Homo sapiens: one gene and its partners. The protein of the gene in region 2 purifies or fractionates together with the protein of the main gene of each other region. This does not show direct contact. Each region holds a gene or a part of one and is shown on either strand. Other genes may lie near its edges.

The links.
Region 1: the proteins of DKK3 (region 2) and MYO1D purify together in Homo sapiens (affinity purification with mass spectrometry; 2 studies listed by BioGRID and IntAct, with this or other methods). This does not show direct contact.
Region 3: the proteins of DKK3 (region 2) and MYO5A purify together in Homo sapiens (co-immunoprecipitation; 3 studies listed by BioGRID and IntAct, with this or other methods). This does not show direct contact.
Region 4: the proteins of DKK3 (region 2) and MYO5C purify together in Homo sapiens (affinity purification with mass spectrometry; 2 studies listed by BioGRID and IntAct, with this or other methods). This does not show direct contact.
Region 5: the proteins of DKK3 (region 2) and SLC25A16 purify together in Homo sapiens (affinity purification with mass spectrometry; 2 studies listed by BioGRID and IntAct, with this or other methods). This does not show direct contact.
Region 6: the proteins of DKK3 (region 2) and MYO5B purify together in Homo sapiens (affinity purification with mass spectrometry; 2 studies listed by BioGRID and IntAct, with this or other methods). This does not show direct contact.
Region 7: the proteins of DKK3 (region 2) and CEP131 purify together in Homo sapiens (affinity purification with mass spectrometry; 2 studies listed by BioGRID and IntAct, with this or other methods). This does not show direct contact.

What each region holds. Positions count from the first base shown.
Region 1 is NC_000017.11:32,870,625-32,874,124, forward strand, and holds part of MYO1D (unconventional myosin-Id), read right to left. Parts: intron 1-3,500. UniProt on the Homo sapiens protein: Unconventional myosin that functions as actin-based motor protein with ATPase activity. Plays a role in endosomal protein trafficking, and especially in the transfer of cargo proteins from early to recycling endosomes.
Region 2 is NC_000011.10:11,967,127-11,970,626, forward strand, and holds part of DKK3 (dickkopf-related protein 3 isoform 1 precursor), read right to left. Parts: intron 1,362-3,500; coding exon 1,269-1,361; intron 1-1,268. UniProt on the Homo sapiens protein: Antagonizes canonical Wnt signaling by inhibiting LRP5/6 interaction with Wnt and by forming a ternary complex with the transmembrane protein KREMEN that promotes internalization of LRP5/6.
Region 3 is NC_000015.10:52,518,881-52,522,380, reverse strand, and holds part of MYO5A (unconventional myosin-Va), read left to right. Parts: intron 1-3,500. UniProt on the Homo sapiens protein: Processive actin-based motor that can move in large steps approximating the 36-nm pseudo-repeat of the actin filament. Can hydrolyze ATP in the presence of actin, which is essential for its function as a motor protein. Involved in melanosome transport.
Region 4 is NC_000015.10:52,247,305-52,250,804, forward strand, and holds part of MYO5C (unconventional myosin-Vc), read right to left. Parts: intron 1,480-3,500; coding exon 1,396-1,479; intron 289-1,395; coding exon 154-288; intron 1-153. UniProt on the Homo sapiens protein: May be involved in transferrin trafficking. Likely to power actin-based membrane trafficking in many physiologically crucial tissues.
Region 5 is NC_000010.11:68,524,724-68,528,655, forward strand, and holds the start of SLC25A16 (solute carrier family 25 member 16), read right to left. Parts: upstream 2,801-3,932; 5' UTR 2,653-2,800; coding exon 2,523-2,652; intron 1-2,522. UniProt on the Homo sapiens protein: May be involved in the transport of coenzyme A in the mitochondrial matrix. Very little is known about the physiological function of this carrier.
Region 6 is NC_000018.10:50,188,648-50,192,147, forward strand, and holds part of MYO5B (unconventional myosin-Vb), read right to left. Parts: intron 1-3,500. UniProt on the Homo sapiens protein: May be involved in vesicular trafficking via its association with the CART complex. The CART complex is necessary for efficient transferrin receptor recycling but not for EGFR degradation.
Region 7 is NC_000017.11:81,189,096-81,191,965, reverse strand, and holds the end of CEP131 (centrosomal protein of 131 kDa), read left to right. Parts: intron 1-615; coding exon of another isoform or gene 616-630; coding exon 631-773; intron 774-881; coding exon 882-1,059; intron 1,060-1,163; coding exon 1,164-1,327; intron 1,328-1,990; coding exon 1,991-2,051; coding exon of another isoform or gene 2,052-2,122; coding exon 2,123-2,197; 3' UTR 2,198-2,370; downstream 2,371-2,870. UniProt on the Homo sapiens protein: Component of centriolar satellites contributing to the building of a complex and dynamic network required to regulate cilia/flagellum formation.

The DNA of each region.
Region 1 (3,500 bases), on a different chromosome or scaffold from region 2:
AGAAATAATTCCATTGGTTGAAGACCAATCAGCCAACATTTGAGTACTCAGTTAATTCATTTTAAGATGTATTAAACATGGGGAAGGGCAAATTCTGTAGCATCACAGAAAACGCAAAAGGATTAAAGGTAGGTTTGCTTCACAGCCACTCACTTGCACCTTCCCCTTCCAAAGCCTTGCATTTTATTCTGCATTCATGATTTACATTCTTTTTCTTAAAGGTGGTTGCCCCCAAGCATTATGAGGTTCAAAGCACCAGAAAACCTGGATCTACCTCTGAACAGGCTATCTGCCTTTGAGGATTCCATAGGTTGGTGAGGAATATGAATATGATAAATTCTCTGTTATGAATAAATGTCCATGTATCCTGAGAGCACATGAGAATGTGACATTGACCTGTTTTGGGGGATTGGGAAAGATTTCTCACATCTGGTCTTGAAGGATGAGTAAGAGTATGGCAGGCAGGGAATGAGGGCAGAGATGAGGAAAGGAGGACATTCCAGGGGGTGAAAACAGCAAGAGCCAGTGGCTCTCAGCTAGGGATAATATTGCATGCATGTGAGCACAAAGACACCCACCCACACACAACCCCCCCAGGGACTTGTGGCAATGTCTAGAGACATTTTTGGTTGTCATAAATGAAAGAGGAGTGGAGTTGTTGACATCTAGTGAGTAGAGGCCAGGGATGCTTCTAAACATCCTACGACACACAGGACAGCCCCTACAACAAAGTCTAAAATGTCTAAAATGTCAATAGTGACAAGGCTGAAAATCCCAGGTCTAAGCAAAGGTACAAAAGACATACTGTGTTAGATTAAAAAAGAGAAGTTGCATGGAGCTTTGGCATGCACAGTGCTTCAGATGATTGCTTTTATGGAAGACAAAACCCAGTAAGAAAAGAGAGGGTGAAAAATTAAATTTCTGAGAAGCCAAGATATCAGACTGAATAGATGCTTTATTCTCAAAACAGGAACCAATAACAAATAAAGTTAAGAAACTGGACCTCTGGAAGTCTAACGTATATTTCATTGTCCTATAAAATGGAAAGCATTTCTGTCAAGGACACCGTCCGTGGCTCAAGTCCACTCCTGAGCAGTAGCCTGCATTCTTCCTTTCACGCACATGGCTGAGAGTGAGGAGTGTGCGGAGTAAGGAGCACGCCGAGGAGCAGATGCAAGCAGCTTGCCCTGGCAGGACTCTCAGAGGGAGGGTGCAAAGCTGATGTTAATGCTGGAAGAACTCACGTATAGGAATGGCCCATGTAAGGAGAAAAGGAACCAATGAGCTCCACATCCAAAAAGGAAGTGGCTACAGAGAAAGCAGAACATGGTAGGACAGGGATGTTGTGGTTAGGGCTTCAAGTGGTCATCAGGGTTGCTGGCAGGAACTGCTCCTGACCATGGAAGCAGGCAGGACTCATACAGAGGTCTTACGCCTGAGCAGAGACCCTTGGAAATTGGAATGAGGAACTTATCACCACCACCTCCATCTCCACCAAAAAGTCAAAAGAAATATCCCCCAACAAGAGACTTCTGGGAGGGAAAGAAGGAGCCCTCACAATACAAGCAGGTTTTGTTATAAAGCAAGGAATATAAATTGAAGCTCCTTCTCAGATATTCCAGGGTTTTGTTAGAACACAAGCAGGTTTTATTTATTTATTTATTTTGAGACGGAGTCTTGCTCAGTCACCCAGGCTGGAGGGCAATGGCGCAATCTCGGCTCACTGCCAGCTCCACCTCCCAGGTTCACGCCATTCTCCTGCCTCAGCCTCCCAAGTAGCTGGGACCACAGGCACCCACCACCACGCCTGGCTAATTTTTTTTGTATTTTTAGTAGAGACAGAGTTTCACGGTGTTAGCCAGGATGGTCTCGATCTCCTGACCTCATGATCCGCCCGCCTCAGCCTCCCAAAGTGCTGGGATTACAGGCGTGAGCCACCGCGCCCGGCCGCAGGTTTTGTTATAAAGCAAGAAATATAAGTTGAAGCTCCTTCTCAGATATCCTAACTCGCAGTAATCCACATCACTCTTTTACTCTTGCCCCATCCAGACACACATCTAGGTCAATTTTTTTTTTTTTTTTTGAGACGGAGTCTCGCTCTGTCACCCAGGCCGGACTGCGGACTGCAGTGGCGCAATCTCGGCTCACTGCAAGCTCCGCTTCCCGGGTTCACGCCATTCTCCTGCCTCAGCCTCCCGAGTAGCTGGGACTACAGGCGCCCGCCACCGCGCCCGGCTAATTTTTTGTATTTTTAGTAGAGACAGGGTTTCACCTTGTTAGCCAGGATGGTCTGGATCTCCTGACCTCATGATCCACCTGCCTCGGCCTCCCAAAGTGCTGGGATTACAGGCGTGAGCCACCGCGCCCGGCCTAGGTCAATTTTTAAAAGTAAAAATGGTAGGAGAAAGTTGCATCAATTGTGGCAGTTGTCTAAAAATCAAGCTTTAGCTCCAAGAGGGAAAAAGAAGGCCAGATTAATAGCAAAACAAGAAGATAATTCTAAAAGGACAATGCCACATAAGCTTTTAAAAAAAAAAGTAACAAGCATTTTTCCCTCTCTACAAAAAAATGTTGTCATGAAGGAATGTACTCTGTACCCAGCATTATGCTAGGTGCTGCTGTTGAGAAAACACAGACCCATGAAGCACCTGCAGCCTTGAGTGCTTGACTATTACATGACTTAAAGGAAGGAAGCAGGCCTTGCAGAAGAGCCAGGTGGGAAGGGAGGACAGGACATTCCAGACTGGGGAGTAAGAGCAGGAACTACAGCTTGGGAGGGCAGGAGTCATGAGGTACAAGCACACATGGGAATTTCACTCACACATCCATATATACCAATGGACCAAACACGCTCAATTTCAGCTATATACAACCAGAAATATGTGCCCAACCACCAATATTCCAGGAGACAAAAACACTTCAACATCACAGAACAGCACCTGGATTACGCAGTGGTGGGTTTCTGGTCACCTTCTGCAAAGTGAAAGGAAAGAGAGGACTGTTTTCTGTCTGGGTCAGAATTTATAGTTTCAGAGGAGGGTAAGGGTGCTACCCTTTGCTGGCACTGTGTTTATGGCTACAGGGAACCAACTATTTTAATGTATAAGTAAGTCATGAACAATCACTGATCTGTACAATGAGAACCACAGCCAGTTCTCAGAGTCATCAAGGACACACAGATGAGATACATACAAATACATATACATCTGTACACCCAGGATTTTGAATGATGTGGAGATTGGGTATAAAGGTAGACCTAAAAACCTGGGCCTTAGCCAATGGCCATATGGAGAGCTGGTGATTCCTCCCACCTCTCCACAACACCAACCCCTTCCCTTCCAAACAACTTAACTTATTCACTGTCACCCAGAGTCAGCTTTCATGCCGCCAACCCCTGCTCATGCTGCTTAATCCACCTGGAATGCTCTCCAGCCACGAGTCCACCTTTACAAATCCTACCCATCCTTTGGAACTCAGCTCAACTCCTCTCTTCCTCTATA
Region 2 (3,500 bases):
CAGCGGCTTAGGGACTGGGGGCCTGCTGAGAGCCCAGCCTGAAGATACCACAGATAGGCCAACCTGCATCCTCCCATTGTAGAGACAGGCAGACCAGGCTGAGATTTCAGTGAAAGTCAGTGGGACAGAGGTGGGAGCTTGGCTGGCGAGACATGGGGGTCAGAACGCTGGAAAAATGGCACCGGGAGGACTCATGGATCTGAGTCTTTCTCCACAGCTTAAGATTTTGCAAAGAACAGCAGGGGGTCTTTGTGGTCCCCACAGACTTGTGCTGTTCCCTTTTTCCTTAGGTCCCTAGGTCCAGGCCCAAAGAGGCAAGGCCCAATGATGAGCCGATTAAACTAAGGCCCAAGCCAGCCCAAGATGAGGATGGCCTGTGGGTGCCAGGGTCCTGCAGCCACACAGGGCATGGCAGTTAGAGAGCAAAGTGAGGTCCCCACGGCTGTGCCCAGTGACGGTACCGAGTGGGGTTGGCTGCGAGGTGCAACAGCAGTGGCCTCACCACAGACAGTCGGGTAAGGTAATAAGAACTGCTTGACTTTCCAAGCTTATTAGCATGCTGTGTTATTGTCTGAATAAGGAAAAATGACTATGAAAAGTCTGTGAGTCCATGTGGCTTCGTCCAAAATGCCTGTTGGGTGAAGAGTCTCCTTTGCCCTGGCTCCACATTTCCCAATCTAACCTGCACTGGGGCAGTGCCCTGGCCTCTTCTTGCCCTGTCCCTCTGCCCTCTCTTATTGGCAGATTGGAGAAAGATCTGGTGGGTGGGGTGCAGGTCCAGAAGGAGAGCAGCTGCCGCTCTCCCTGCCTGGGGGCTGCCGGAATGTCTCTGTTTGTCTATTAGGATGGGTCATCCCCAGGGGAAGCAACAGGTGTAGGGACACCTCCTCTCCCTTCCCTCCCCTTCTCGAACTCCCGGCCTCAATAGATCCTTCTGCCTTGGTCTCCCCAAAGTGCTGGGATTACAGGTGTAGCCACGGTGCCTGGCCGTCCCTCCCCTTCTCTACCATCAATGACACAAACAACATGACCAGAGGACATGGGGTGGATGGGAGTGGCCCTGGGTCTGCAGATGGCTTCCTGTCATCCCAAACTGGAATGAGTTCCTTGTCCTCCAGGAGTCAGCCCTCTGGGGAGCCCTCTTGGGTCCTCCCCATCATGGTGAGGCTCTTCTGGGAAGCCCAGCTGAGAACGCTGGGGCCCCTGGCTTTCTCCCCCAGGTGCCTGAGACCCTGGTGCCACAGCCCCAGAGGCCCTGGCATACTCACCATCCTCTGGCCCCGGCATGGCTGGCAGGTGTACTGGAAGCTGGCAAACTGGCAGTACATGCTGGGCCCACAGTCCTCGTCGATGATGCACTCCTGGGGAAGGGCACAGGGAGCAGATGTGTCAATGGAGAGCAGAGCAGCAGGCCCACAGTGCCCAGGAAGGGCCAGGCCCGCTTCCATTCCCCATTCTTGACCCCACAGGCTCAGCAGGGTCAGGAAAGGCCTCCAGACTCTAGTCGCTCCTGATCCCTGCCTGGCTGCACTGCCCTTCAGCATCTCCATGCCTAGGAGGCTTGGCAGCCCAGAGCCTGGAGGATCCCACACCAAATTCACACAATCGCCATCTGTGCACAGTTCTCCCCCACCCACACCCAGGGCGGGAGCACAGGGACTCAGGGCTGGTCTTCCACACAGAACATATGGATTTAATAAAAAGTGCTAATGAGGTCCAGGCCCGCCCGACTGCACAGGAAAGGCTGGAAGACAGGCCCCAAGGGCTCTGCTGACTGTGAAGACTGGGAGGCAGCAGAGGGGGCATCGCTAGGGACCCTGCCAGAAAGCCACAGCCCTGCCCACAGAGAGCGCCCTCAGGGTCCTGGGTCTAGGGTCCCTGCAAGAGGGAAAGGCAGCTGCCAGCTTGGAAATGAATTAGAGGAGGGTGGCTGGACTCCAGCCCTCCCAGCCCAGGTGCTGTCTCCTCATGGCTGCCAGCTCTGCCTGGCTGGAGAAACAGGGAGAGAAGGAGTGAGGGGAATCTGTCCACCCCAAGGCCTGAGTCACAGAACAGGGAGCCATGGCCGAGGGCACTGTGACCTGCCATGGTCGCCGGTCACTGGCAGAAGCAGGGCTGCTTCAGCTCCTGGACCTGCTGTCAGGCTCAGGCCTACGAACCGGCAGCTTTACAGCAGGGGAAGGAGGGCAGGGGAGGAGGGAACATGATGACAGGAATGGCCATTGATCGCCCTTTTGAGGTATCAGGCTTGACGGCCCTGATCTTGTTCAGTGACTCCTCCCAGCAGGAGGCAGGTAGGGACTGCCTTCTCTATATTGCCAGCCGGGAAATGGAGGCAGAGAGGTCCCTCCAAGATAATGTGACTAGTTCAGGGTGGAGGGTCTCTTTCCACCACCAGCCCTTGAGCCAAGGGGGTTCAGGGCTCCACATGTAGCAGCCAGTGGTGAGAAGGACCCTCCTGAGGCCTGGTATTCTGGGGCCCAGCAGACCTTCTGGAAGGGTCTTGAGGAAGGGAAGGACCGGCTCTCCCCTCTGACCCAGAGCATCCTCCCCATCCTGAATGCAGGTGTGGAGCCCCACCTGGAAGAGCCTGGCCGGGCAGGCCTGGACCTCCGGCAGCTGCCTCCAGTCCCCTTCCAGGGGCTCTGCTGCTCTGATCAACACTGCAAGTGCTGGCGGCCCAGCAACCAGGGTGCTCCCTTGCCAAGCATTGATGCTTTTGTTTCAGTTACTTTCCCAGCACCCCTTAAATGTCAGGCATGATACCATCGCTGTTTTTACGGATAAGAAAACCGAGGCTCCGAGTAGGGTGAACGGCCGCCCAAGTGAAGGGACTGAGTCTGAGCCAGAGCCCCAGCGGCCAGAGAAGTCCCAACAGGGCTGGGAACAAATCACAGACGCGCTTTGTCTCAGCCCAGCACACGCTCTTGTGCACAGACACAACTCAGGCTGCTCAGCCGGAAGCCTCCCGACGTTCTTTCCAAAGCAGAATGGCAAGAAAATGGAGTGGGAGGGACGACATTTGGGAGAAAGGAAGGGCCAACAGGCACAGAATCCCTTCTCTGAACCAGCCATATTTTGAGGGACTGGGGACACAAAGGTGAATGTGAGGAGGCCTCTGCCCTTAAGAAATTCGTAATTCAATTGGAAAAAGAGAGAGAGAAAGAGCAACCCAGTGGCAAAGGAGACAAAGGGTATGAACGGACAACTTAGAATAACAGAAATTTGCCTCTTCAAATAGAAAGGCGTTCAACCTCACCAATGAAATCAATCAAGAAATGCAACTTAAAAGAGCATAACACCATTTTTTTCACTTAGAATGGAAGAAATTAGAAAGGTTGAATGTCTCCATGGTGGGTGGAATAACAGCACCCCCAAAGATGTTCACATCCTATTCCCCGGAACCTGTGGGTATGTTATATTACATAGGAAGGGGAAATTAGAGGCAGAGGGAATGCAGGTTGCTAATCAGCTGACCTGAAGGTAGGGAGCGCACTCTG
Region 3 (3,500 bases), on a different chromosome or scaffold from region 2:
ACCACCCCACTCCCAATCTTTCATCAACTTTATTGAGGTATAATATACTTGAAAAGTCCCTCATTTTAAGTGTACAGTTTGATGAGTTTTGACACATATATTCTGTCATGTAACCACCGCCACAAACAAGATGCAGAACATTTCCATCACCCCAAAAGTTCCCTTGTGCTTTGTCTCTTATCTTCCCCAACATCTTCAGGGAGTTTACTGGAGTTATGCTTGCTCATTAGGGCAGAAGGAAGTTTTTTCTTTTTGGTTTTTCCGAAATGAATGCTATGGTTCCACCTTAGCCCAACCAATAGAGATACTTATTACAAAGGCCTGGCATTGGAGATCATGGCTGTGGAGTTTCATTTTCAGTGGGAGGCGGAAGTGGATATAAAAGGAGTTTAGATGATTTTTGTTTAATCTTTCCTTCACACACTGACCACTTTGCCTTTATTAATGATGTCTGCCTTTGATGCCTTCTGAAATGCCCTTTGGTTAATTTTGCCCTTTAACGGTTCCTCTTCCCCATCTGTCTTGGTTGTAACATCAGTCTGAGTTTGTGCTGATACAACCTAAACTTTGCAGAAACTTATCCCTGGCTCTTCATGCCTCAGGCATTCTCCATTTCTCTTCTAAGCCCTCCTCACTTGGAATTCTTTTTAACTAGCAGGCATTAGCGTTAAATATCTCCTTGTACAGCAAAGGCTTTTTGCCAATTGTAGAACTTAGGGATGATGTAATTATTTTTTGATTTCAAAATAATGGTTCTAAACTTGATTGAAATCAAGGGAGAAGTGCATTGTACATAATGCACTAAGTGTTCATGAGGACCATGTATCTACCTCCTGTGGCCTAATGTACTACTGTGGCCAAAAATGTGGGCAAGATGCTGGGCTAGAGGGAGACTGGATGCACAAAAAAGATAGGTTTTGTCCATCTTTTGTCACATATACAAAAACATATAGTCCTGGCCAGGAATCCTGCATGTGTGGTTGGGGTTTCTACTTCTTGACAAATGTACATGAAACTAGAGAAATTTCAGAATAGGAGAAGTAAAATGATCAGGGCAGTGAAGAGGCTAGACAGATTAAAGGTGTCGAACTCTCTAGTTTAGAAAGATGAAGGTGAGCTGGGAATACAGTAGAGGTTTTTTTTTTTTTTTTTTGAGACAGAGTCTCGCTCTGTCACCCAGGCTGGAGTGCAGTGGCGTGATCTCAGCTCACTGCAACCTCTGCCTCCTGTGTTCAATCGATTCTTCTGCCTCAGCCTCCCGAGTAGCTGGGACTACAGGCATGTGCCACCACCCCTGGCTAATTTTTGTATTTTTAGTAGCGATGGGGTTTCACAGTACTGGCCAGGCGGGTCTCGAACTCCTGACCATGTGATACGCCTGCCTCGGCCTCCCAAAGTGCTGAGATTACTGGCGTGAACCACTGTGCCCAGCCCTATAGTAGACTCTTTGACATCCAGAATAGTGGAAGTTTGTAACATCAAATCTCAGTTTAGTAGGGATATGTTTTAGATCTTGAAACAAATCAATATATGCCATTTTAAATGAATTTCTACTTTAAACATTTACATTTTACATTTCTGAAACTCATCACTTCAAGTTATGGTATTAGCTGAGGTACAGGATGTAAATAGAGAGGGTCTGGGTAATTTATGGATGAGAGGTTTGGCACATTGACTTACCAAACCTCTCTTTAACAGTGTTAGTCAGTTTACCAGCCACAGCTGTTTTAGTTGGAAGAAACAGAAACCCAAACTCAAAGCCAAAGAGGAGTTTATTTGCTCATGTGACTTAAAAATCTAGGCATGGCTGGAATCAAGGCTCAGACATGGTCATTGGGGCTCTCTTCACTGACTCTCACATGCTGTCTGACATTGGTTTCATCCTGAGGGCAGCTTTTTTTAGGGGTGAAAAGATGGTCAGTGGCACCTGCAGATCACATGATCTTACAGCACTGGGCCTGGAGGAAGAGAGCCTGATAGAGGAATTCTGGTCATGTGCCTTCTCCTTTCATTGGGCCTCTAGGCAGTAGGTGAGGAGCACCATGAGTGGTCAAGTCTGTGCTCACCCCAGAGACCAGGGGGAGGACAGGGCACTGTGATTGATAGTCCTACTCCAACCTCATGGGATGGCTGTGAGCTGTTCGCCATTGGAAGGAAAAGTGCTAGGTAGTCAAAATAAACAACTACCCTCAGTCCATGTATGCTATGAATAGGTCACTGAAAATGATAGTCATGGAATTCTACCCCTCCTTTTCTGATCTTTGAGCAAGAAGAATGGGAAATTTTGCTTGACCGGGGACATTAGGTATCTTTCCCCTAGAGAATCATTTTGGATTGAAAAATAGAAGCCAGGCCAGGTGCGGTGGCTCATGCCTGTAATCCTCAGCACTTTGGGAGGCCAAGGCGGGCGGATCATGAGGTCAGGAGCTTGAGACCAGCTTGGCTAACACGGTGAAACCCTGTCTCTACTAAAAATACAAAAATTAGCCGGGCGTGGTGGCGTGTGCCTGTAATCCCAGCTACTCAGGAGGCCGAGGCAGGAGAATCGCTTGAACCCGGGAAGCAGAGGTTCCAGTGAGTTGAGATCGTGCCGGTGCACTCCAGCCTGGGCGACAAAGCAAGACTCTGTCTCAAAAAAAAAAGCCATGGAGCGTCTGTGCAAGCAAATGTTACTAATAGCATGTTAGAAATTGAAATTTTGAAAATTTATTCAGTCTTCAATTTTGATTTTTCATGTATTATTATTATTATTATTATTATTATTTTTTTTAGACAAGGTCTCGTTCTGTTGCCCACACTAGAGTGCAGTAGCGCAAGCATAGCTCACTGCAGCCTCGAACTCCTGGGCTCAAGCAGCCCTCCCAGCTCAGCCTCCTGAGTAACCGGGACTGTAAGCGCATGCCACCATGCCTGGCTAATTTTTTAATTTTTGTAGAGACAGAGTCTCACTTTGTTTCTCAGACTAGTCTCAAACTTTTGGCTTCAAGCAATCTCCCACTTAATTATCCCAAAAGTGCTGAGATTATAGGCGGGAGCTACCATGCCCGGCCATTATTCAGTCTTAATTTGGGGGCTATGAACCCTATGTCACCTTTCTTACTGATTTCTTTCTACCGTATTTCCTCAGCATTTTATTTCCCCTATTTTCTTCACATCCTTGCTTGCATACGTTATTCTCTTCCCCTATTTTCATACATAGATAAGTTGCACGATTTCTTATTGCACAACAGTAAGAATTGTGCACAATTTCTTTTTGCCTGTCCGTCATTCCTTGTTCATGTCTAGTGGTAGTCTGTCTTCTGTTCTCTTCCTTCCACCTGTTCATCTGCTTTATCCCCCTACTATTTAATTTTATCTACCCACCCCTTATGCCCTGTTATGATTTGTTATAACGAAGTATATATACATCCCACACCTATAATGGAATAAAATAAGTTACTAAAGGGTGAATCTTTTTTTCATAACTTAGATTGAGGAGGGAACTTCATTTTTGTTTTTGC
Region 4 (3,500 bases), on a different chromosome or scaffold from region 2:
CGATGAACTTTTTGCAGTGGAGTCCATGTTAGATTGGAAGAGCCCCAGCGTCTGTCCATGTCCAGGCCTGGAATGCGGGTCCTCTGAGTGCCCTGGCTCCCCAGGGCCTGGCCCTGCCTTTAGACCCCTCACTCTCAAACACCTTCTCAGTACCTTGCTCCCAACTGTGGTCCGGAAATGCTTGCTGTTTGGCTTGATGACTTGCTTTGCAGATTTAACTGTAATCATTGAACCAAAAGGAGAAGGAGGAGTTGGATTTTCTTGAAAAAAGTTGGCACAGAGATGAAACTGGAAGGAACAGAGAGGATCTCAATGTCCAAAAGCAACTGCCCACAGTACTCACTCATACAAGCCACGTAAATGGTGACAACAACTCAGCTAAACTAGTGGGCGGTGAACAACCTCACCAACATCTACAGCCAAATCTCAATTCCACAAGACGATCGTCTTTCATAGGGATGGCCCGTGACTTCTTTCCCGAGAAGGGGAACAGAGAAGAAAAGTGTGTAAATGTCTGTATGTGGGTATCACTCTAAGTGTCAGAAAGTGGAAACATCTACTATTCTCACCTCCGTGCCTGGCTCACACTGTGTCTCCACCTGCAATCTCCTCCCTCCTACTCCACATTCTCATCCCTGCAGATCCAAACCCTACCCAGGAATCTCTTAAAATGTTTTCCAGCCCCACCCACTTCGCAATGAATGAATTAATCCCAACTTCTCTGAACCGTCTTCATCTTGTATTTGTACCTCATTTAAAGCACTTACTACCTTCTGCTTTGTATCAGTTATTTCTTTAAATGTCTTATCTTCTCTCAGAGTGAATTTCATATTTTGTTTTGTTTTGTTTTGTTTTGAGACAGGGTCTTGCTCTGCTGCCCAGAAGAAGAGTGCAGTGGCGCAATCATGGCTCACTGCAGCCTCTATCTCCCAGGGCCAAGCAGTCTTCCCCACCTCAGCCTCCCAAGTAGCTGGGACTACAGGCATGTCACCATTCCCTGCTAATGTTTTTTTATATTTTTAGAAGAGACAGGGTCTTGCTTTTTTGGCCAGGCTGGTCTCAAACTTCTGGCCTCAAGCAATCCACCCGCCTCTGCCTCCCAAAATGCGGGGATTACAGGCGTGAGCCACCACGTCTGGCTGGAATTGTGATTCTTCAATGGTTCTATTAGCTGTCCTTCCTGTCATCTGCATGTTTGATTTCTGATTTTGCATATAGTAGAGATTTACAGTAGTTATCTTTTTGAATCTGTGAGCTACAACTTACCACTGTCCAGAGAGTTCACACACACACACACACACACTCTCTCTCTCTCTCTCCTTACTCTTTCCTTATATACATCTAGATCCATGTCAATTATATAATAACTTTAGTTACCCCTAGGACTTTACAGACCTTGCTTGCTCTCAGGATTTCAACCAGCATGTCATAGACGGTGTCTCTGTTTTTCTCCAGGAAACCTTCACATTTATACTCTACCTATACAGAGAAAGCAATTAATTATTCCCAAAGAGGCCAAAGAATATAGCCTCTAAGCACAAGTTTCATCTCTTTTTTAAGAAAGATTAATAAAAAAGGCTACAGAGGCAATCTTACAAAAAGACGTCTGGCTTCTGTGCATCATGGCAGCAGCCCCATTATGTATAAGCTGGGAATGTGTCTTCTCTCCCACCACCTGGGTTTCTCACCTGCCTGCTGATCACTCTGCACTCACCTGTTGGCTCCCTCTGGCCACAGGGGTCCAGTTGCTCCCTGCGGTATGTGCAGTTCCTACAAGAACACCTGACTTAGGTCTCCCTTTGCCTTTGAAGCCACCAGGAGGAGGAAAAAGCTTAGTGGTGTTCATTGGGTTCAAACAGACATCGTTTCCTAAATCAACATTAATGTGGTAGAAAGGATAGAAAAACCGACCAGCTGACCACCAAGCCTTCAAGAGCCACCAAGCCCTCAGAATCAGGTTTAGAGTGGGTCAACCTTTGCACTGCTTGAATCTAGCTTAGAAAAACTCTCCATGCTGCCCTTTCTGATGAAGAAGGCTTCTCGAATGCCTCAAACCATGGCATATCCAGGGTGGCTGCTTCAACATTCAACCTCCCCCTAGTTTATGCCTCTGGATTGCATATCTTAATATGTGATAATTTATTTTTCATAAATTAAAAACGTATATTAAAATTAATTTTAAAAATTGACAATGAGGAAACAGGGGAGAGTGCTGGAATCCGTAAGCAGAGGGTTCCCTGGGCATGGCCTCTGCTTTGTCCCCCAGGTAAGGAAGTATCCTTGCCGGTAGGTAGGTTAAGATCCAGGAACACCGGCTGTTTGCAAACACTTCTTTGTGAATGAAGTACCTGGATTGTTGTACAAATTCTTCCAGAATGGTGGTGTGAGCCACTAGGACAGATAGACAAAGGTGGCAAATACAGAGCTTTCCTGGTCTGGGCGAGCATCTGTGGGGACAGTGTCACATGCAGCTGGTGCCTCTGTTGGGGACTCTGGGACCAAAGGAAGATGTGCTGAGCTGCTACATCTAAGCTCAGCTGACTTGCATTCAATACGACCTGATTTCCCTGGCCAATGAGATTGAAAACCTAATCTAACCCCATAGTGCATGTGGGTTCTTCCCACCAATCAATCCATAGTCCAGCCCAAACGCTGCCTAGTTCTTTTAAGGGAGACTTCTTGGAAGTGGCAGGTGAGAGAATTACATGTCCAGAAACTACATCCTATAAAGAGAGACCCTTGAAAGAAATCCCATATGTGCTTTTTATGGAGTCTGGTCTTTCCCCCTCCCTTTTCCTATGGGACCAGAACCCTGAAATTATGACAATAGCTAGGAAATATAATTTGACATATGATCATTTCATTTCATAGGCATCTTTTCAGGAGCCCATCTGAAAAAGTCTAAGCACTAAAAACTTATCTTTTTTTTTTCTTTTTCTTTTTCTTTTTTTTTTTTGAGACAGGGTCTCACTCTGTCAGCCAGGCTGGAGTGCAGTGGCGTGATCTTGGCTCAATGCAACCTCCGCCTCCCAGGTTCCAGCAATTTTCCTGCCTCAGCCACCTGAGTAGCTGGGATTACAGGTGCGTGCCACCACGCCTGGCTTATTTTTGTATTTTTTAGTAAAGATGGGGTTTCGCCATGTTGGCCAGGCTGGTCTCAAACTCCTGGTCTCAAGCGATCCACCCGCCTCAGCCTCCCAAAGTGCTGGGATTACAGGTGTGAGCCACTGCACCCGGCCAATCCTATATTTTAATATTTTACAGTACTCTGCTAGCACACAAAGGTGATCACAGCTTTCCAGGTTGCTGTCCCCTCCCTCCACCATCAGTCACTCGGGAATGACCAGCTCTGACTCACAGCACCGGCCTCTGCGATAAACATAGACAAGCACAAGCCATTCCTGTGAGCCCTGGCACTGGGCTAGGCCACCAAGGCAACACCCAACCAGGACATGGGAGGAGGTAGGAGCTCCCTTAAGGAAGGAAAACAAATAAGAATG
Region 5 (3,932 bases), on a different chromosome or scaffold from region 2:
AAAAATTAACTGGGCATGGTGGTGCACGCCTGTAATCCCAGCTACTTGGGAGGCAGAAGCAGGTAAATCACTTGAACCCGGATACGGAGGTTGCAGTGAGCAGAGATCGTGCCGCTGCACTCCAGCCTGGCCGACAGAGTGAGACTCCATCTCAAAAAAGAAAAAGAAAAAAAATTAGCCAGGCATGGTGGCATTCCCCTGTAATCCCAGCTACTTGGGAAGCTGGGTCAGCAGAATCACTTGAACCCAGGAAGCAGAGGTTGCAGTGAGCCAAGATCACGCCACTGCACTCCTGCCTGGGTGAGGGAGTGAGACTCTGTCTCAAAACAACAACAACAACAAAAAAAACTTAATACTGCTGCAGTCTTCAGATATTATCTTTCTACAAATCCTCATAATGTGAGGTTTTTTTTGTTTTATTTTATTTTGTTTTTGAGATGGAGTGTCTCTGTCACCCAGACTGGAGTGCAATGGCAGGATCTCGGCTCACTGCAACCTCCACAGTGATTTAGGCGACTCTCCTGCCTTAAGCCTCCTGAGTAGCTGGGATTACAGGCGAGTGCCACCACGCCTGACAAATTTTTGTAGTTTTAGTAGAGACAGGGTTTCACCATGTTGGCCAGGCTGGTCTCAAACTCCTGACTTCAAGTGATCTGCCCACCTTAGTCTCCCAAAGTGCTGGGATTACAGGCGTGAGCCACCCTGCCCAGCGAATTTTTATTGTTTGTTTTTGTTTTTTTCTTCTTTTAGGAGAGGGTCTCTCTCTGTAGCTCAGGCTGGAGGGTAGTGGTGTGATCATGGCTTACTGGAGCCTCGATCTCCTGGACTCAAGCAGTCTTCCTGCCTCAGCTTCCCTAGTAACTGGGACTACAGTAGTGAGCCACTGCACACAACTTCAATGTGGAATTTTTAAATTTTTGAATCTTAAATAATTAAGTAATGACAACCTGTGGGGAAAAGCAAGAGAGATCAGATTGTTACTGTGTCTGTGTAGAAAGAAGTAGACATAGGAGACTCCATTTTGTTCTGTACTAAGAAAAATTCTTCTGCCTTGAGATTCTGTTAATCTATAACCTTACCCCCAACCCCGTGCTCTCTGAAACATGTGCTGTGTCACAGAGTTGAATGGATTAAGGGCGGTGCAAGATGTGCTTTGTTAAACAGATGCTTGAAGGCAGCATGCTCCTTAAGAGTCATCACCACTCCCTAATCTCAAGTACCCAGGGACACAAAAACTGCGGAAGGCCGCAGGGACCTCTGCCTAGGAAAGCCAGGTATTGTCCAAGGTTTCTCCCCATGTGATAGTCTGAAATACGGCCTCGTGGGAAGGGAAAGACCTGAACGTCCCCCAGCCCGACACCCGTAAAGGGTCTGTGCTGAGGAGGATTAGTATAAGAGGAAGGCATGCCTCTTGCAGTTGAGACAAGAGGAAGGCATCTGTCTCCTGCCTGTCCCTGGGCAATGGAATGTCTCGGTATAAAACGCGATTGTATGCTCCATCTACTGAGATAGGGAAAAACCGCCTTAGGGCTGGAGGTGGGACCTGCGGGCAGCAATACTGCTTTGTAAAGCATTGAGATGTTTATGTGTATGCATATCTAAGAGCACAGCACTTAATCCTTTACATTGTCTATGACGCAAAGACCTTTGTTCACGTGTTTGTCTGCTGACCCTCTCCCCACAATTGTCTTGTGACCCTGACACATCCCCCTCTTCGAGAAACACCCACAAATGATCAATAAATACTAAGGGAACTCAGAGGCTGGCGGGATCCTCCATATGCTGAACGCTGGTTCCCCGGGTCCCCTTATTTCTGTCTCTATACTTTGTCTCTGTGTCTTTTTCTTTCCTAAGTCTCTCGTTCCACCTTACGAGAAACACCCACAGGTGTGGAGGGGCAACCCACCCCTACACAACCCAGAGAAGTAATTAAGGAAGGGTGGAGCTTGAAGGCCCAGGAAATTCCTAAGAGACAATATGAACTTTTTGATCCCAAAGTCACATCAATAATAGGGCTTGTCAAGTACTGTGTCACAGTTTACTAGAATCACTGGAACCAGTTTTGGCTGTAGACAGTTTGCACAATTTTCCAGTAGTCATTAAAAAGCTGATCTCCAATATTTGTTTTCCTTTAAGCAAACAGCAAAATCCAAGTCTACACTGGGTCACTCACGGTTTTTATAAAAGAAAGGAGTGCCCAGCATGTCTCACTAAAACCCCAGGGTCTCTGTAAGGGATCCTCCTCTTTTCCCTGTTATCCAGCCCTGAAGAATGGGTGCCTGATTCAGACCTTCCACCTCCCCAGCCTCTGCCGGAGTGCCAAAGGTCCCACTCCCCATAACCTAGCTGTCATTAGTCAAGTGATTACTAGAAAGAGGTTACAGCAGGTCAGGGCAGACATCTAACAGAACATTGAAGCAGCCAGAGTCCAGGAATGTCATAGAGGCCGCTTGCATCCCACTTGCCCACAGTCCTGCCCCCGCCACTCAGAGCGCGGCTGGCTCTTCGTGGCATGGACCCACCTCCGGCCAGAAAGGAGCGCAGCCAGTAGAAGTCTCTGCGGGTTGTGGGCCCTCCGGCCCCTGCCGCCTGCGGCATTGCGGGAGGGGGATCGGCCGCCGCCAGGGCTGCCGCGGCCGTCGCCGCCGCCATCAGGACCAGGGTCGCGTCAGGAGCCTAGGTTGCCAACTTACAGAACACCGGACGGGACCATAGCCGGAACAGGCGGTGACAGGAGGCTGACCGCCCCGCCGGCGGGGCAAAGTAACACCCGGCGGCGCGGCGCCGGCTGATGGCGTACAGCAAGGGCGGGGCCTGTGTCACGCGCCAAGGGGCTCTGCCGGGAGGGGCGGGGCCAGGACGCGGAACAGGGCGTCACCCAGGCTCGTAAACTCCTCCATCCCGCCTCACCCGGCGTTGCCACTGTCAGTTCACTGCTCAGGCCCCTTCTGTTCGGACGGAAAAAGGAAACGGTAGGCAGTGAGATGGTCCCATTAAAACCCACAACCTGGCCGGGCGCGGTGGCTCACGCCTGTAATCCCAGCACTTTGGGAGGCCCAGGCGGACGGATCACTTGAGGTCAGGAGTTCAAGACTAGCCTGGATGCCGGGCGCCGTGGCTCACGCCTATAATCCCAGCCCTTTGGGAGGCTGAGGCGGGCGGATCACAAAGTCAGGAGTTCGAGACCAGCCTGGCCAATATGGTGAAACCCCGTCTCTACTAAAAATACAGAAATTAGCCGGGCGGGGTGGCGGGCACCTGTAGTCCCAGCTACTCGAGAGGCTGAAGTAGGAGAATCACTTGAATCCAGGAGGCAGAGGTTGCAGTGAGCTGAGATAGCGCCACTGCACTCTAGCCTGGGTGACAGAGTGAGACTCCGTCTAAAAAAAAAAAAGACTAGCCAGGCGAACATGGTGAAACCCCGTCTCTACTAAAAATACAAAAAATTAGCCAGGCGTGAGGGCGGGCGCCTGTAATCCCAGCTACTGGGGAGGCTGAGGCAGGAGAATTGGTTGAACCCAGGAGGCGGAGATTGCAGTGAGCCTAGATCGCACCATTGCACTCCAGCCTGGGCGACACAGCGAGACTACGCCTCAAAAAAATAAAAAATAAAAAGGCCCACAACCTTAGAAAGCTCTCTCCTGTCTCGTCCCTTGACCTATATTGACCACTGACCAGTAATCGCCTATCGCGCTTTTTTTTTTTTTTTTTTTGAGACGGAGTCTCGTTCTGTTGCCCAGGCTGGAGTGCAGTGGCGAGATCTCTGCTCACTGCAACCTCCACCCCCTGGGTTCAAGCAATTCTCCTGCCTCAGCCTCCCTAGTAGGTGGGATTATAGGCGTGCAATACTACCCCTGGTTACTTTTTGTATTTTTAGTAGAGACGGGGTTTCCAACGTATTGGTCAAGGCTGGTCCGAACTGCTGACCTCAT
Region 6 (3,500 bases), on a different chromosome or scaffold from region 2:
GTGGTGGCACACACCTGTAGTCCCAGATACTCAGGAGGCTGAGGCCGCAGAATCACTCGAACCCAGGAGGCAGAGGTTGCAGTGAGCTGAGATCGTTCCACTGCACTCTAGACTGGTGACACAGTGAGACTCTGTCATAAAAAAAAAAAAAAAAAAAAAAAAAAAAAAAACACACACACCTATCAACAAAGGAGGGCAGGGCAAGAGCCTGCTCAATGATTACAGGTTACAGGCCATTGGAATATGCCACATCCACAAGTCACAAGTACAAACTTCAAAATTCTGATGATCGCCAACATGGTGAAGCAGGATCCACTGGGCTTATAGGCCCATCTGAAAACGGGGAGCAGAGGATCAACGGAATTGGAACTAGGGATGAGAGAAGAAAAAAACCACATGCAAGACAGAGAATGAGCCTCAGAAGGAAAGTGACAGCATGACACACAACCTCCATGCTTCTTTTCAGCCTTTCCTGGGACCATAGAGGGGCCAAAGCCCTTGAGATTCTCAACATCCACTAAGCTAAGCCACCATGAGTTATGGTTAACTTGGGCTCCTAGAATCTGATCCTGAGACAAGGATTCCTGCTCAAGAGACTTGTAAGGCAGTGTTTTCCGGAAAAGACTGGTAGGGGAGTAGAGAAGGTGGACAAGAGAGGGAAGGAAGTCAAGCTAACATGTGATACTAAGGAAAGTCCCAAGCATGGTAACTTTAGTTCAACTGTACAAAGAAACTGAAAACAGTATGGGTCATACTTTAGAGCTGTTCCATTCTCAAGGTGACAAGATAGGAAACTAATGTCATTACAGTGCCATTGGTTAAGGACTGTTCCCTTTTGCAGAGTGTCAATTCCCAGGCTCCCTATGCACACAGGCAAAACAGCTTCAGGAGCTTTGACAAAGAGATGGGTGCTGGCTATTGGGAGTGAGCTAACACCAAGGCAGTATGCAGGGAAGGGAGTAAGGGGGAAACAATAGGAGCACTAACAGCATCTGCTGACACTTTTCAAGTCCTCATGTCTTTAACACTGTCACCACTTTTTGGAAAAAAGAACATCACTCAGAGCCACCAGCAAAAGAAGGAATCATCAGCCCCTCCAGCAGGGGTGACTGGGTACAGAGGAAACAGGTGGCTCTTGCTGCCTTCAGACTGACACTTGGGAGAAACTTACATTACCTGAGGTATAGGTAAGGGACTGTTAAAGGACACCTGCCCAAAAGCACAGAAGATCTATTTTTCAAATGATTGGTCCCAAATCGCGCCCTTAGTAAAGGCTCCTGGGTGCAAAGCTGCCATACATATGGTGTGTCTGCCAGTAAAGTAACCTCCCAGCAGCACTCAAAAACCCACTGCTCAGACACTACCTATCAATTAGAAGCCAAGCAGGAAAAAAGGTTATTTGAAGGCACTGGTTTCAAGGCACCAGTTTCAATTTGATGATTTCTCATTCACTCTGCTGGCTAGAATCAAAGTAGCATATTGAAAATCCAGGTATTTGAAATAGCAGTATTTAAATTTTTTGTTCCAAGTAACTCTTCTATAGATAAGAGTTGTATTATTCAGCCTGAGAAGGAGAGGTTACATTTTATGCTTTAAAATCAGACTACTATCTGCAATCATCATGATGAAATGGTATTCACCATGCTTGCACATGTGTGGGCTTCTTTCTGGATCTATGCAAAGCAAAGCCCACATTGTCTTTTCCAATGGGTTGGAAGCCAAGCACTCACACTGACCACATGCATGCCACTGTGACAACAGAGACCATCATCAGCTCCACCTTTGGAGCTGATGTGAGAGTGAATGAGACTGACTCACTTTGACATCACCCTGAAAGTGTCTGGCACTGACTGGTGCTCTTTCTCCATCCAGAAAAACCTCACTACAAAGAAAACAATTTCTCAAAGGTGAGGTGTTGGGTCTTCTGAGAACAGGAGTGTCTCTGTTCAAAGAGAAGTGCCCTTTGGCCCCCGACCTACCAAAAAAAAATCACATAACATATAAACTGCCACTTGAAGGGAACAGATCAAGAAGAGCAAGAACACATTTAATTGGATGGAGGGAAAAAGAAACTATTTTCTTAGATAACTAGAAATACACTAATTTCTTACTGAACAGTATTTAATACAAGCTAATATATATTTAAATGTTTCATATTCCAATAATAACATCTTCTAACTATCACAAAAGCAACAGGTATAATCAAAGGGCTTTAAATTTTCCATTCCCAAAAATGTATAAATGCTGTTAGCATAATGGGTAATTATTTCCATCATACATAATACATTGATGTGTGTGTCTGGCTCCAGTGTTCATCACATTAGGAAAGCCCACTAGCAAGTTAAAAATAAAAGGGAACATTGGCTATTTTGATAATACACTAAAATGAATAATCTCTAAGAAACAAAGTGAATCTGAGTAGCAGGCACGACTTCCCTGTGTAACTTATGATTCACATGCATACTGAGAAGCCAGCTTGGCAAGTGGGGAGACCATGGTTAGGCAACTACACAACTGCTTCTCATAGTAAAGCACAAGTGTGTTAATTGCCAGGAAGAATAACAACTGCTCAAAACATAAATCTAGAAGATACTGTCTTGGGTCCCAGAAAATCTCCTTAATTTCATAATCAAGACCCTAAATGATTAAGAACTGGAAACCCATTAACAGAGCAAGGTGCAGCCCAGCAGCCCTTAGGGAAGAACTCTAATATTTGTTTGGGATTAATTATGCCAACCCCTCACACCAATGAAGCTACTTTTTAAGTGTCTTATATCCAAGACCTTTCTCTGGTGACACCAGTTTTGTACATCTCCATAACCTGAGAAAAAGTACACTGAAACCCAAGTTCAGACTCCCACTACTTCATCATTCCTAAGAATTAACATGCAATGTATTCATTTCTAACTAAAAATCAAATTGAGTGTTTTCTCCTACAAGTATTGTCTTTAAAAGCAATCCGATATTAATTCTTGTTCTTCAAAACTAGGGCTCCGAAGATTAAGGGTTTATTCAATTGTCCATTAGCCTCATATGAGCACTATTTCAAGGTCATGGAAAATGCATATCATGGAAAAAAATTCACATGGATTTCAGAGTTTTCTGCACCAAAACAAACCCATAGTTTTATACTTGTTATAACAAGTATGAATGGGATCTAGAACAGGGTCTAGTTTGAGGCACTAAGAAAGTTAAGTCATCAGTTTGAAAAGAAGCCCCTATCAGGGCAACATGAATTCTACTAAAATTGAAGCAAGACCAAACATCAAATTTATGACGAAGTGTGGAGAGAAGAATTGTGAAATCATGACTTTATGAAAAGTTTATGGGGACAATCAGTTTTTAAGTGGATAATTCATTTGAAGAAGGGACGAAGCGATGTCAAAGATGAAGCCTGTACCAGCAGACCATCCACACCCATTTGAGAGAAAAAAAAAAAAAATGTAGCTTGTTTGTGCCCTAATTGAAGAGGGCTGACAATGGTAGAAACAATAGCCAAC
Region 7 (2,870 bases), on a different chromosome or scaffold from region 2:
AGCCTCTGGGGCCTTCTGTGGGGGGTGGACTCTGCCACGGTGACAGTCCCACACACATTCTCACCACCCATGCCCGCCGCGAGGCTACAGTCCAGGCTGACCGTGCCCGTCACCTGGTTTCACACCCTGGTGGGCTGGGATGTCACCGAGCAGCCAGGCAGGCTTTGGCAGTGGATGCCTCTGGGCCCAGTAGCATGCTCCCGACGTAGCCCTGTGGGGCCCAGGGCTGGACAGATGAAACTCTGGGAGTTTTCAGAGGCTTCCAGGAGGCTGCCAGCTTAGGCTCTGAATGCCTGGGCTTGGGGGCCCAGGCCCCGCCCTCAGCAACACGCAAGTCCAACTTTCCCATCCCATCTGGTAGCAGAAGGTGGCCTCAGGTTGTCATGGGCTGTGGGTCTCTGAGGGAGGGGACCGTGGGCTGTGCATCATGACGATCTCTGGTACGCCTATGCCCACACTGGGTCCTGACAACAGGACGTAGCGCACCCCTGGACAGGGGTCTGGAGAGGGGGAAGGCCCCTTGCTCCCCTGTGGCTCAGAGCCTGGAGCCCCCCAGGACCCCCTGAGGCTGGCCCTGGCCCCGCGGGCCGGCTCCGGGTGGCAACCCCCAGGCAGCGCATGTCCCCCCAGGAGGCGTGGCTGCTGAACCGGGAACAGGAGCTGAGGGAAGAAATCCGGAAAGGCCGGGACAAGGAGATTGAGCTGGTCATTCACCGGCTGGAGGCCGACATGGCGCTGGCCAAGGAGGAGAGTGAGAAGGCTGCCGAGAGCCGGTAAGGACCCGCCATGGCTGGGTCACCAGCTGGGGAGGCCCACGAGCTGAGGCGCAAGGACCCGTGTGTGACTGGGCTGGAGTGACCCTGCCCTCCCCCCACCTCCAGCATCAAGCGCTTACGGGACAAGTACGAGGCCGAGCTCTCCGAGCTGGAGCAGTCGGAGCGGAAGCTTCAGGAGCGGTGCTCGGAGCTGAAGGGCCAGCTTGGGGAGGCCGAGGGCGAGAATCTGCGTCTGCAGGGCCTTGTGCGGCAGAAGGAGCGGGCGCTGGAGGATGCGCAGGCGGTGAGTGGGCGGGTGTCAGGTGGGCAGTGGGCACCCACAGGCCCCTCCTGCATGCACGCAGCCAGTCGCTGGCAGCCGGCTCACTGCCTTCTGTGCCCACCCAGGTGAACGAGCAGCTTTCTAGCGAGCGCAGCAACCTGGCCCAGGTGATCCGCCAGGAGTTCGAGGACCGGCTGGCAGCCTCTGAGGAGGAGACGCGGCAGGCCAAGGCCGAGCTGGCCACGCTGCAGGCCCGCCAGCAGCTGGAGCTGGAGGAGGTGCACCGGAGGTGGGCGGCGGGGGCTGCAGGGCTGGAGACGGAGGCGGGGCAGGGGAGCGGGCAGGACCTCTGCAGCTCCAAGCCCCAGGAGGCTGTGGCTGAGGAAGGCCAGGAGATGCAGAGACAGGGCCCTGTAGACAGAGGCTGGTGTGGGTTCCATGTTTGGGGCCCAGGAGACCTAGATCTGTTTTCCTCCCTGGTGCTTAGTCTAGGGTGTCGGCCATCCCTGTTGGGGCACCCGAGTGGGTCGGGTCTGGGCCTGGCGAGTTCTCCAGGGAGTCAGCTCCCGGGGCCCTGGGCTGGGTGGACAGGCGCTGAAAGAGCTGGGGCACTGTAAGGTTCCCAGCGAGCTCCCTCCACGGGGGTCCTGCATCCTTCCTGTGCCATCTGCTGCCACAGGCTGAGAGGTGGGTGTGGGCGAGGTGTCCCACCCCATCTGGGTACCAGGCCTCCCCAGGTGTGGCCAGGGTCATACTCCAGTGGCCTGTGTTGGGTCCTGACTCACAGCAGGTGGGTTGCCTGGACAGCTGTCTGGGCCAGCCACAGGAGTCGTGGTCAGCAGGGCTGGGACCAGGCTGACCAGGCGGCTGCCCCGTGCACCCTGTGCACTGCAGGCCACTCTGGGGACATGGGGCGGGGGCCACACTGAAGCCTACCATGTACTACCCACAGGGTGAAGACAGCCCTCGCGAGGAAGGAGGAGGCCGTGAGCAGCCTCCGGACACAACATGAGGTGAGTCCCTGTGGCCAGCCCTGCTGGACCTCGGGGCTGGGAGCAGGCCTGACCCTGTGGGTGTGCTGCAGGCTGCGGTGAAGCGGGCCGACCACCTGGAGGAGCTGCTGGAGCAGCACAGGAGGCCCACGCCAAGTACCAAGTGACCAGGGATGCCGGGAACACTGTCGAAGAACGGAAGGCAGAGGACAGAGGCTGGACGTGGGCCCAGAGGCCCACAGGGACGCCCACCTGCCCCCCACAGAGGCTGGTGGTTGAGATGCCCACGGCTAAGCACCTGTGGCTGCATTTTAACAGTAAAGGAGGCCGTTGTTTTCAGCGCCTTGAGTGACTGCCTTGTCTTCTCTCCTGGGCTAGAGGCTGCCCAAGACCCCCAGAGCAGCCAGGCGTGGGTTTGGCTCTCTTCCTCCCACTCCCCTCCGCAGCCTGAGCAGGCTGACCAGGAAATCACGAAGCTTGGCCATCAGCCCCCCAGCTAGCAGCCCTCAACACTCAGCCAGCAGCCCCCAGCACTCAGCCAGCAGCCCCCCTGCACTCAGCCCTCAGCTCCCCAGCATTCAACCCAACCCCCAAGTTCCTGTTCCCTGCCTTGCCCTGGACCCTGGAAGTCCCAAGCACAGGGAATTCCCTACCCCGTTCCTGGCCAGGCGCAGGAGGAACTCAGCAGAACTCACCCCCTGGGAGGAGCTCCGAGGGCCCCGCCGTGGCCCTGCAGGTGCTGGAAGCCCATGGCTGCCAGCGTGCTCCTATGGCTGGAGAGACTCCAGAGGGACAGGAAGCCCTACCCTCCCCGCTGTCAAGGTGTGACAGTCTGGAGCT